Linked DNA regions of Homo sapiens. The gene in region 1 interacts genetically with each later gene. Each region holds a gene or a part of one and is shown on either strand. Other genes may lie near its edges.

What was found.
Region 2: changes in ZMAT5 (region 1) and METAP2 together harm fitness more than expected from each alone (negative genetic interaction), as found in Homo sapiens cells (one large-scale study listed by BioGRID).
Region 3: changes in ZMAT5 (region 1) and CENATAC together harm fitness more than expected from each alone (negative genetic interaction), as found in Homo sapiens cells (one large-scale study listed by BioGRID).

What each region holds. Positions count from the first base shown.
Region 1 is NC_000022.11:29,746,421-29,750,070, forward strand, and holds part of ZMAT5 (zinc finger matrin-type protein 5), read right to left. Parts: intron 2,152-3,650; 5' UTR 2,125-2,151; coding exon 1,998-2,124; intron 1-1,997.
Region 2 is NC_000012.12:95,508,603-95,512,252, reverse strand, and holds part of METAP2 (methionine aminopeptidase 2), read right to left. Parts: intron 359-3,650; coding exon 255-358; intron 1-254. UniProt on the Homo sapiens protein: Cotranslationally removes the N-terminal methionine from nascent proteins. The N-terminal methionine is often cleaved when the second residue in the primary sequence is small and uncharged (Met-Ala-, Cys, Gly, Pro, Ser, Thr, or Val).
Region 3 is NC_000011.10:119,008,089-119,011,738, forward strand, and holds part of CENATAC (centrosomal AT-AC splicing factor), read left to right. Parts: intron 1-2,675; coding exon 2,676-2,742; intron 2,743-3,132; coding exon 3,133-3,195; exon of another isoform or gene 3,196-3,223; intron 3,224-3,650. UniProt on the Homo sapiens protein: Component of the minor spliceosome that promotes splicing of a specific, rare minor intron subtype. Negative regulator of centrosome duplication.

The DNA of each region.
Region 1 (3,650 bases):
ATTACAGGCATGAGCCACGGAGTCTGGCCAAATTTTTTTATTTTTAGTAGAGATGGGGTTTCACTATGTTGCCCAGGCTGGTCTTGAACTCCTGGACTCAAGCGATCCTCCCACCTCAGCCTCCCAAAGTGCTGGGATTACAGGTGTGAGCCACCATGCCCTGCCTGCTCTGGATTTTGAAGTCACCACCTGTAACTGGGAATGCCTGGCTTGGCCTGCCCAGCCTCTTACAGAACTGTTCTAAGGACTGAATGTGTTGGGGATGTGAGGACACTGAGAACACAGGAGCCCTGGGGCACTCCTGTCACCTGCTGCTTCATCTTTTCTATAAGTGACACAGGGACCTCTGCCAATCAGCCCTGGATCCCAGCATCCAGCTGTTGACAGCTGAGAATCTGGGACTAGGTGATCTCGGCCCAGCTCCCTCTAGATCACAGCCCACACTGGATTTGCACAGCAGGGAGCCTTAGCGTAACACCAGGGTTAGAGTCTCCTAGGGAGCTAGGAGACCCCACTGCCCATGAATTTTCCTGTGGCCTTGCAACCACAGCCACGCCTGGCCTGCTGAGCAGCCTGGCCACCCCCTCACTTGAACCTCTGAGCCTCAGCTCCCTCAAGTGAAATGCGGAGTCTGGGAAGCCTTTAGAAACACCATGCCTAGTCCCCAAACCTGCCTCTGGGGAGGGGATGGGGTTGGGGAATCAGTGGTTTTAGCCTAAAGGTCTCCAGGTGATCCTAACCTGCAGCCGGAGTTGAGAATCACTGCCCTAGAGAGTTGTCGAGAAAAGCAAATGACGAACTATGAAAAGCACCAGCATGTAGCAGGCATGCGATCCATGCTCATTCCTTGTTTGTGAACTCTCAGTTTCAGGCCTTTTTTGAGGCGGGGTCTCACAATGCTGCCCAGGCTGCTCTTGAACTTCTGGGCTCAAACAATCTTCCCACCTCAGTGTCCCAAAGTGCTAGGATTACAGGGGAAAGCCACCACACCTAGCCCCAACCAGGGAACTCTCTCTCCACCTCTCCTCCCTTCTTGGCTGCTGGATTTGGTTCCTTCTTCGGAGGCCCTGTCCCAGAATCCTGCTCACCAACCTACAGGGCATCGGCCCCACTCTGGCTCATTCCAGGAGCTCCTGGCCCACCCTCGCCCCACCGCCAAGTGCCCATATCTCTCAACCTGGCTCCTGCCAGTCACCCTCTGGAACCTCCCTGGCTGTTCCTCAGTGTGAATGTCCAGTGACAGCCGTGCAACAGCACAACTCCCCTCTCTGGGCACCTCCCGGGAAACAGGCCCTGTGCTAGGCACTTCCGACCTTAGCTCATTCACCCCAATTGTTCTTGCTCTGAGAGGCCTTTCCCAGAAGAGCCTGCCTTCCTTCTGCAACTGGGTTATTCACCCGTGCCTGCAGCCAGTCATTCAACTGCCACTGACCGCACCCAACTGCTCCCCACGAAGCAGTCTGCGCTGTCAAGGCAGGTCTGGCCACGGCAGCTAAAGCCCTTCAAAGGCTGCTCTCTGCCCTTGGAACAGGGACCCCCCCACCTCCGCCCCCTGCTTATGATGGCCTCCACAGGCTTGGAAGATCCCTGCCCCAGAGCCAGCTTGAGCCCTACCATTCTCCCCTGGCCTGCTCCGCCCAGCCACACCCTCTCCCTCCTGCTCCGAGAGCCCTGGTGCTGGACTCAGGGCTGCCTGCTTCTCTTCACACCCTCCACCCAGAACTGCATGGCTAGCTTTCCCCTATTTTAGCTGTTGGCTCAAACATCACCTCCTTCTAGGGCCTTCCTCCTGTCCACAGAGCCTTCAGTCAGCGTTGTTGGGGAAAGAGCTCACCTACCAGCCTGCTCCTCTGAGGGCCCAGTGGCTCAGGCCTCCCTCTCTTTTGATCCTCAAAGAGCCCAGACCTAGACTGTCACTGACCCACAGGAGTCTTTGATGATAAGAAAGATCAGAGAGCAGGGCTCCAGGAGCCTGGCCCCCAGCCAGCGGCACCCACCTCGGAACATGTCGTACCAGACCTTCTTGGCCTTGAGGTGCTGCAGCCCGTTCAGGTGCTTCTTGCGGTTGTGGAGGTTGTCCTGGAAGGAGCGGTCGCAGTAGTCACAGAAGTATCGCTTCCCCATGGCCACTCAGAGCAGGTGCTTTGCTGCCTGGGAAGCCACAAAGAGCTCAGATTAGACCATTGGAGAAAACACATCCCTCACCAGCCCACTGAATGCTTCCTGAGGGCCAGGCCTGAGCCCAGGCTTTACTCATATGCACCCCGCCCCATTAGGAGTGTCAAGCTGATGAGTATGGCCTAAGAGGCCTCATTCCAGAGGGATCTGTTAACCATTCTGATGCCCAGCCTGCAACTTAGGCCAGTTAAAGTAGAACCTCAGTGGGTGAGGCCTGGGCACTGTTTTTTCTTGAGAGGGTGTTGCTCTGTCACCCAGGCTGGAGTGCAGTGTTGCAAACACAGCTCACTGCAGCCCCCACCTCCTGGGTTCAAGCAATCTTCCTGTCTCAGCCTCTCAAAGTGCTGGGATTACAGGCATGAGCCACTGTGCCTGGCTGCTGTTTGGTAGTTTTTAAAGTCTATCAGGTGATTCTAACATGTAAGTAGGCTGAACTGCCACCTTATACCCTGTGGCTGGCCTCCCTTGTCTCCTACCACATAGGGTTTTATTTTTTTGAGACAGAGTCTCGCTCTGTCACCCAGGGTGGAGTGCAGTGGTGTGATCACGGCTTACTGTAGCTTTAACCTTCTGGGCTCAAGTGATCCTCCCACCTCAGTCTCCCAAGTAGCTGAGACTACAGGTGCGTGTCATCATTCCTAACTTAAAAAAACAATTTTTTTGTAGAGATGGGGTCTCGCTATGTTGCAGAGGCTGGTCTCCTGGGCTCAAGTGTCCTCCCGCCTTGGCCCCCCAAAGTGCTGGGATTACAGGTACGAGCCACCGCCCCATCCCCTACCATACCTCTGACCTCCACATTTGCATCATATAGGCCACACCGGCCTCCCCTTTGCTCCTCACACATGCCAGGCACATGGCCACCTCCCGGCCTTTGCACCCAAGGCTCCCCAGGGAGGGGTATGCCCTCCTGCAAACTCCCGCCTCACTTCCCCTCCTGACCCCTTCCATCTTTGCTCCAATGCTACTTTATCCAAGATGGCAGAATCTTCCACTTAGCTTCCTCCACTCCCTGCTTTATTTTCCCTCATAGCATGTATCACCCTTTGATATGGTGAGGCTTTGTATCCCCACCCAAATCTCATCTCGAATTGTAATCCCCATAATCCCCAGGTGTCCAGGGAGAGACCAGGTGGGGGTAACTGACATGGGGGTGGTTTCCCCCATGCTGTTCTCATGATAGTGAAGAGTTCTCACAGGATCTGATGGTTTTATAAGGGGCTCTTCGTGCTTTGCTCAGCACTTCTCTCTCCTGCTGCCTTGTGAAGAAGGTGCCTGCCTCCCCTTTCCCTTCTGCCATGATTGTAAGTTTCCTGAGGCCTTCCCAGCCATGCAGAACTGTGAGTCACTTAAACCTCTTTCCTTTGTAAATTACCCAGTCTTGGGTATTTCCTTATAGCAATGTGAGAACGGACTAATACACCCTTCATGCAATAAGTTACTTGTTATGTTTACTGTCTTTCTCCCACAATGAG
Region 2 (3,650 bases), on another chromosome or scaffold:
TGGCACCTGAGAATGCTCAATAAATATTCATTAAATGTTGAATAAACAACCCTTTCACAGCCCCAATTTCCACAACTGATTTAGTGCTGACTATACACAATTTGCAAATTCAAATGGCCCAATTCCTGGCAGGGTGAATATGGATGATAAGCAGCTAATTCTGGTCAGTATAACCATATATTTAACTACCATGACCTTCTGCTTGGAAGAAAAAAATGTCTTCCATGGAAGTAAAATGTTAGTGACACACATACCTCCATTCTTGTTGCCTCCCCTCCTTTCACAATCGGCACTGTTTTTCCAGCATGTATTCTATATTGCCCAATTGAATGTCCATTTAGATTACGGATTGGTTTCACTGTTATAAAAAATAGGGAAATAAAAGTCATTCAGGATCTCAAGAAGCAAAAACAGATCTCTTACATTTTGGTACAGAGTTCAAGCATTTATTCAAAAACCAGGTATGGCTTTACTAAATAACCTTACATTAAGGTAGTTTAATATAAACTGGAATCTAGTGGAATATAAAAAGTAGTTGCAGTGTTATTAATACTAGAAGTAGGCCAGGTGCAGTGGCTCATGCCTGTAATCCCAGCACTCTGGGAGGCCGAGGCAAGCGGATCACCTGAGGTCAGGAGTTCGAGACCAGCCTGACCAACATGGCGAAACCCTGTCTCTACTACAAATACAAAAATTCGCTGGGTGTGGTGGTGGGGGCCTGTAATTCCAGCTACTCAGGAGGCTGAGGCAGGAGAATCACTTGAACCCGGGAAGCGGAGGTTGCCGTGAGCCAAGATCACATCACTGCACTTCAGCCTGGGCGAAAGCAACTCCGTCTCAAAAAAAAAAAAAAAAAAAAAAAACGGTGCTAGAAGGGAGGATGGAAGAAAGAAATACAGGATTAAGGGCACAAGGGAGGTCATCTAAGGAGGTATAAGGAGGTACTGTTAACAACAAATAAAATGCCATGTACACAAATTATTAGAAACATAAAAAATACATATTTGTATTGTTACAGACCAAAAGATAATGTGAAAGATACTGTTAATATGACAGTATTATAAAACTTTATATCAACATTTCAAATGTTCAAAAAGAAAACCTATGTGGCTGAGACACAGTAATTAAGAAATAGAAGTAAGAAAGAAGAAAGAAAATCTAAACATCCCACTGTCATGACAGCAAGGACAGAATAGACAAATTGTGGCATATTCACGAGGGAATAACATTCAACAATCAAAACAAAAAGCTAGGAATACATTTAACAACTGGAATAAAACGTCTAGCTTTTTTATTCCAGTTGTTTTAAAACTGACAAAATGAGCAGAAAAAGGCACAATTACATATATACTGTACAATTCCACATATATATAATAGTTCAAAATTAGGCAATAAAACTAGTTTAGGGATGCATAATTAGGTAGTAAAGACATAAAGAAAAGCAAATGAAAATCCTTTCATACTTGCAGTGCTGATAAGCTAAATATATTTTAAAATTCAGACATCATTACTATTTCTCTAAGACCTGGCAAACTGACCCCACAAGCCAAGATGGTGGCTCACTAGAGGCAGGCTGCTGTAATTGGAAAGCAGTGTATTGCTGCTATGGTTTGAATGTATCCCCCAAAGGTCATGTATTGGGAATTTCATCCCCAGTGTGATGGTGTTGGGAGGTGGGACCTAACAGGAGGAGTTTGGGCCATGGAGGCACCACTCTCATCAATGAATTCAAGCCATTATCTCAGGAGTGGGTTCCCTGTAAAGGACAAGTTTGACCATTTCTTGCTCTCTCTCTCAAACTTCTCATTGCCCTTCTGCCTAATGCCATAGGATGATGCAGCAAGAAGACCTTCACCAGATGCCAGTCCCTCAATCTTCCCAGCCTCCAACACTGTGAGAAATCAATTTCTGTTCTTTATAAATTACCTAGTCTCAGGTATTCTGCTGTAGCAGCACAAAACGGACTAAGAAAATGAGACTGAGCGTCTTCTGGAATACTGGCAATATTCAATTTCTTGAGGAGTGAGGTTACGTAGCTTCTGCAATTGAGAAGCTGAGTTTTTATGCTTTGTGCATTTTGTGTTAATATTTCAAATTTTAAAAAAGGGCTAAAAACGGCCAGGTGCAGTGGCTCACGCCTGTAATCCCAACACTCTGGGAGGCCAAGGCAGGTGGATGACTTGAGGTCAGGAGTTCAAGACCAGTCTGGCCAACACAGTGAAACCCCATCTCTACTAAAAATATAAAAATTAGCTGGGCGTGGTGACACACCTGTAGTCCCAGCTATTTGGGAGGCTGAGGCAGGAGAGTCACTTGAACCCGGGAGGCAGAGACTGCAGTGAAATGAAACTGCACCACTGTACTCCAGTCTGGGCGACAGAGTCTCAAAAAAAAAAAAAAAAAAAGGTTGGGGGGGAGGTCTTAAAAAAATTTAACTCTATAACTCTAGAATCCTCAGTATGAGCTACCTTTCTTCTAGAGCAGAGTTAAGTAGTCTGAAGCAATGAACAAGTATGTTACAAACTTAGTGGGACAGCAAGAAAAACAAATCAATTCACTCTTCACAACAACCTTCTTATATAAATGTGTCAAAGTTGTCAGACTCAAACAGAGCTAGGGAAAGCCATGAAGAGAGGGTTCTCATGCTTATACACCTGATAATGAAAATGACTATGAAAACCATAACCTTGCACAAAGCCCACTGCAACCTTACACAAAAAAATACTTCTGCAAGGACATCTGCCCAACAACTGCCTGCCCAACCTCCGACTGGCGTCACTTTTGTTATTAATCTTTGGAGCCAAGGATAATTATTTCAAAACAATTATGTCATCCTCATTTTCGTCTTCAAAAACCTCTGTCTTCCTTACCTCCCTGAATATGCACAAGTTTACTATGGCATTCCCACTGCAATGCTCTATTCCCAAACATCATTTTCTTTTAGAGAGCCTCTGTTTGTTATTTAGGTTGACAAGTAACAAGCTTATTTTAAAATTCAAACTTTGCAGACTGACCCTTACAAGCCAATCAATTTTTTTAAAGAAAGTTTCTTAGCCATACCAACCTAATATGTTAGTTACACAGAAAAATGAGGGTACAGGGGAATTCATTTTTTACTTATGCAGGTTGTAACAGCACAGGCTAATTCTGGGACCAGTAATTTGTTAACAATCACTTTTTAATTCTATTGCTTCCTGATCAAAGGAGATTAAGATACTCCTTTGATGGCCCGTTTGTGCTATGTGTTTTGATTTGTTCTGGAAAGTTCAACCCGGAATCCATTTCTTCATCTCCCTATTATCATGATTTTTCCACATCCTCTCTGCTTAAACTATAAAAATGGATTGTTGCCTTAAACTAAGAACACTGATCAATAAAATAACAGGGATCAAAAGAGGGGTACTGAAATAATGAAACCAAAAATGCTGCACTAGCTTAATGGAAGAGGTAAAAGGGTAGATATTAAAAATCCCGATGTTGCAGGCTGGAATTATTATGCAGTGACTAAAACATTAAGTCAAACTGTCACCTACCATACCTTGAAAGGCAGACCACATACCAAACAAGTTGTAGAATTAGGAGAAAATGAAAGGAAAAAGAGAAGACATTGGTATATGTTGGCTAGTGTTGGAATTTACAAAAATTTCAGC
Region 3 (3,650 bases), on another chromosome or scaffold:
AAATTTTACTTATTGAAGGGGTGGCCTGCCCCTCCACACCTGTGGGTATTTCTAGTCGGGTGGGATGAGAGACGGAGAAAAGAAATAAGACACAGAGACAAAGTATAAAGAAACAACGGTGGGTCCAGGGGACTGGTGCTCAGCACACCAAGGACCTGCACCGGCACCGGCCTCTGAGTTCCCTCAGTTTTTATTGATTATTATTTTTCATTATTTCAGCAAAAAGGAATGTAGTAGGACAGCAGGGTGATAATAAGGAGAAGGTCAACAAATTACATGTGAGCAAAAGAATGTATATCACGATTAAGTTCAAGGGAAAGTACTATGCCTGGACGTGCACGTAGGCCAGACTTATGTTTCTCTCCACCCAAACATCTCAGTGGAGTAAAGACTACAAGGCAGTATCACTGTAAACATGTCTCGCCTCCCGCCACAGGGCAGCTTTTCTCCCATCTCAGAGTTGAACAAATGTACAATCGGGTTTTAAGCCGAGACATTCAGTTCCCAGGGGCAAGCAGGAGATAGTGGCCTTCCTCCATCTCACCTGCAAGAGGCTTTCCTCTTTTACTAATCCACCTCAGCACAGACCCTTTACAGGTGTCGGGCTGGGAGACAGTCAGGTCTTTCTCATCCCACGAGGCCATATTTCAGACTATCACATGGAGAGAAACCTTGGACAATACCCCGCTTTCAAGGGCAGAGGTCCCTGCGGCTTTCCACAGTGCATTGTGCCCCTGGTTTATTGAGACTAGAGAATGGCAATGACCTTTACCAGATGTACTGCTTGTAAGTATTTTGTTAACAAGGCACGTCCTACACAGCCCTAGGTCCCTTAAACCTTGATTTTATACAACACATGTTTTTGTGAGCTCCAAGTTGGGTCAAAGTGGCTGGGTCAAAGTGGCTGGGACAAAGCTACAAATCAACAACATCTCAGCAAAGCAACTGTTTAAAGTACAGGTCTTTTTCAAAATGGAGTCTCTTATGTCTTTCCTTCCTACATAGACACAGTGACAGTCTGATCTTTCTTTCTTTTCCCTACAACTTATTATTATTTTTGAGACAGAGTCTTGCTCTGTCACTGGCCTGGAGTGCAGTGGCCCGATCTCGGCTCACTGCAACCTCCACCTCCGAGGTTCAAGCAATTCTCGTCTCAGCCTCCCAAGTAGCTGGGATTACAGGCACCTGCCACCACATCTGGCTAATTTTTTGTGTTTTTGTAGAGACAGGGTTTCACTATGTTGGCCAGGCTGGTCTTGAACTCCTGGCCTCTTGATCCACCCGTCTCGGCCTCCCAAAGTGCTGGGATTACAGGCGTGGGCCACACCGCGCCTGGCTTAAATGATTTTTTAAAACTAAGTGGCTTAATATTCTGCAATTTTAATCTGAGAGGGGTGGAACAGAAAGCCCCATACCTCATCAGAACCTGGGAGTTGATGAGAAACCATTTGATGACAACCTCCTAGGGGAGATGGGGAGGGAAGTGGGAGATGGCCTCATAGCAGCTTCTGGCAGACCTTCCACCCTCGTGTTCCAGGAGGATTAAACAAGCCTTTCAGCCACAATTCGGTAAGGTGTGGCTCAAGCCATTGTCTCCTTGGATATATTCAAGGCTCTCAGGGAACACTGTTGATAGTGGTATTGGTATTATACTGAAACTTTGTGTTGAGAACCAGGGTTTTGAGAACCAGGGTTTTCACTATGGCAAAAGGAAGATACAAGTAAGGAATGGAGGCATTTGAATAGGGAGGTGACAGTACAAATTACTGATTTAAGGCCAGGCATAGTGGCTGATGCCTGTAATCCCAGTTCTTTGGGAGGCCAAGGCAGGAGAATTGCTTGAGCCCAGGAGTTCGAGACCAGCATGGGTGACATGGCAAAACCCTGTTTCTACAAAAAACACAAAAATTAGCCAGGCATAGTGGTGCTGTCCTGTAGTCCTACCTACTCAGGAAGCTAAGGCAGGAGGATCTCTTGAGCCTGGGAGCCTCTTGAGCAGAGGTTGCAGCGAGCTGAGGTTGTGCCACTGCACTCCAGCCTAGGCAACAGAGCGAGCCCGTCTCAAAAAAAAGACAAAGAAATTTAGGACAGTATGCAAGATTTGGCCTGGATTCTTCTGAGGATGTGAAGTAATGGAAACAGTAAGACTGTTCCAGACTAGGGGAAGACTAGAGACCTAATAGCTGGATTCCATGTGATCTTTTGTTGGACTTTGGGATTGGAGGTGAGAGTAGAGAAGGCATAATGCACGTTTTTGAGACGAGGGAAATGTGAATATAGCCTGTATGCCTACACTCAAGTCTGAAGACATGTAAACCATGTCTATACTAACCAGCCAAATATTTGAACACTAAAAGGAAGAATTTTCTTAATGTGGTAATGGTATCATGGTTGTATAGAATGTTCCTCCTCTTGGGAGATGTGTGTTGAAAATAGGGTTTGACGTCTAAACCTATTTTGTTTTGGCAAAAAGGACGTGTGTCTGTACAAAAGAAGTGGAGCCAGTATGGCAAAATGTTTACAAGGACTCTGGGTGAGAGGTACATAGGTGCTTACTATACTGTTTTGTTTCTGAATTTGGAATTTCTCAAAATTAAAAAAATATCTACTGAGGAGCTTTTCGTTTTAACTGGTGGGGAATGGGTTCTGGGTGGTTTTGCCCCTTTTCTTTTTAGATTCAAGAAATCCATGGTGAAAGGTTTGGATTCCTATGAAGAAAAGGAGGATAAAGTGATCAAGGAGGTAAGTTAAAGTAGCAGTCCCTCACCCTTTTTGCACCAGGGGCTGGTTTCGTGGAAGACGGTTTTTCCACAGATGGACCCAGGCAGGGGATGGTTTCAGAATGAGACTGCTCCACCTCAGATCATCAGGCACTAGATTCTCATAAGGAGCACGCAACCTAGATACCTTGCATGCCCAGTTCACAATAGTGTTTGTGCTCCTATGAGAATGTAACACCACCACTGATCTGACAGGAGCTCAGGCGGCAGTGCTGTTGCAGCCTGCTTCCTGACAGGCCACAGACCAGTACTGGTCCACGCCTGGGGGTGGAGGGCCCAAGTTAAAGGAAAGGCCTCTGAAGAAACTGGCCCCCATGATCCTGTACCTGTCTAAGCAGCCTCTCTCCCACAGATGGCAGCTCAGATCCGTGAGGTGGAGCAGAGCCGACAGGAGGTGGTTCGGTCTGTCTTAGAGGTTGGTTTCCCTCGGAGGATCCAGACCAGTATCCAAATCCACTGATCCCTGGCATTCCCAGGTCCAGCATTTCATGGACTAGTGCTTCTTCTTCTTCTTTTTTTTTTGGAGACAGAGTTTCGCTGTGTCACCCAGGCTGGAGTGCAGTGGCACGATCTCGGCTCACTGCAACCTCCACCTCCCAGGTTCAGGTTCAAGCGATTCTCCTGCCTCAGGCTCCCGAGTAGCTGGGATTACAGGTGCCGCCACCACGCCTGGCTAATTTTTATATTTTTAATAGAGGTGGTGTTTCACCATGTTGGCCAGGCTGGTCTTGAACTCCTGACCTCAGGTGATCCACCCGCCTCAGCCTGCTGGAATTACAAGCATGAGCCACTGTGCCCGGCCATGAACCAGTGCTTCTAAGAGAACTCTGACTGCATTCTCATCTGCTTGGCTTGAATTCCCTTACCTGT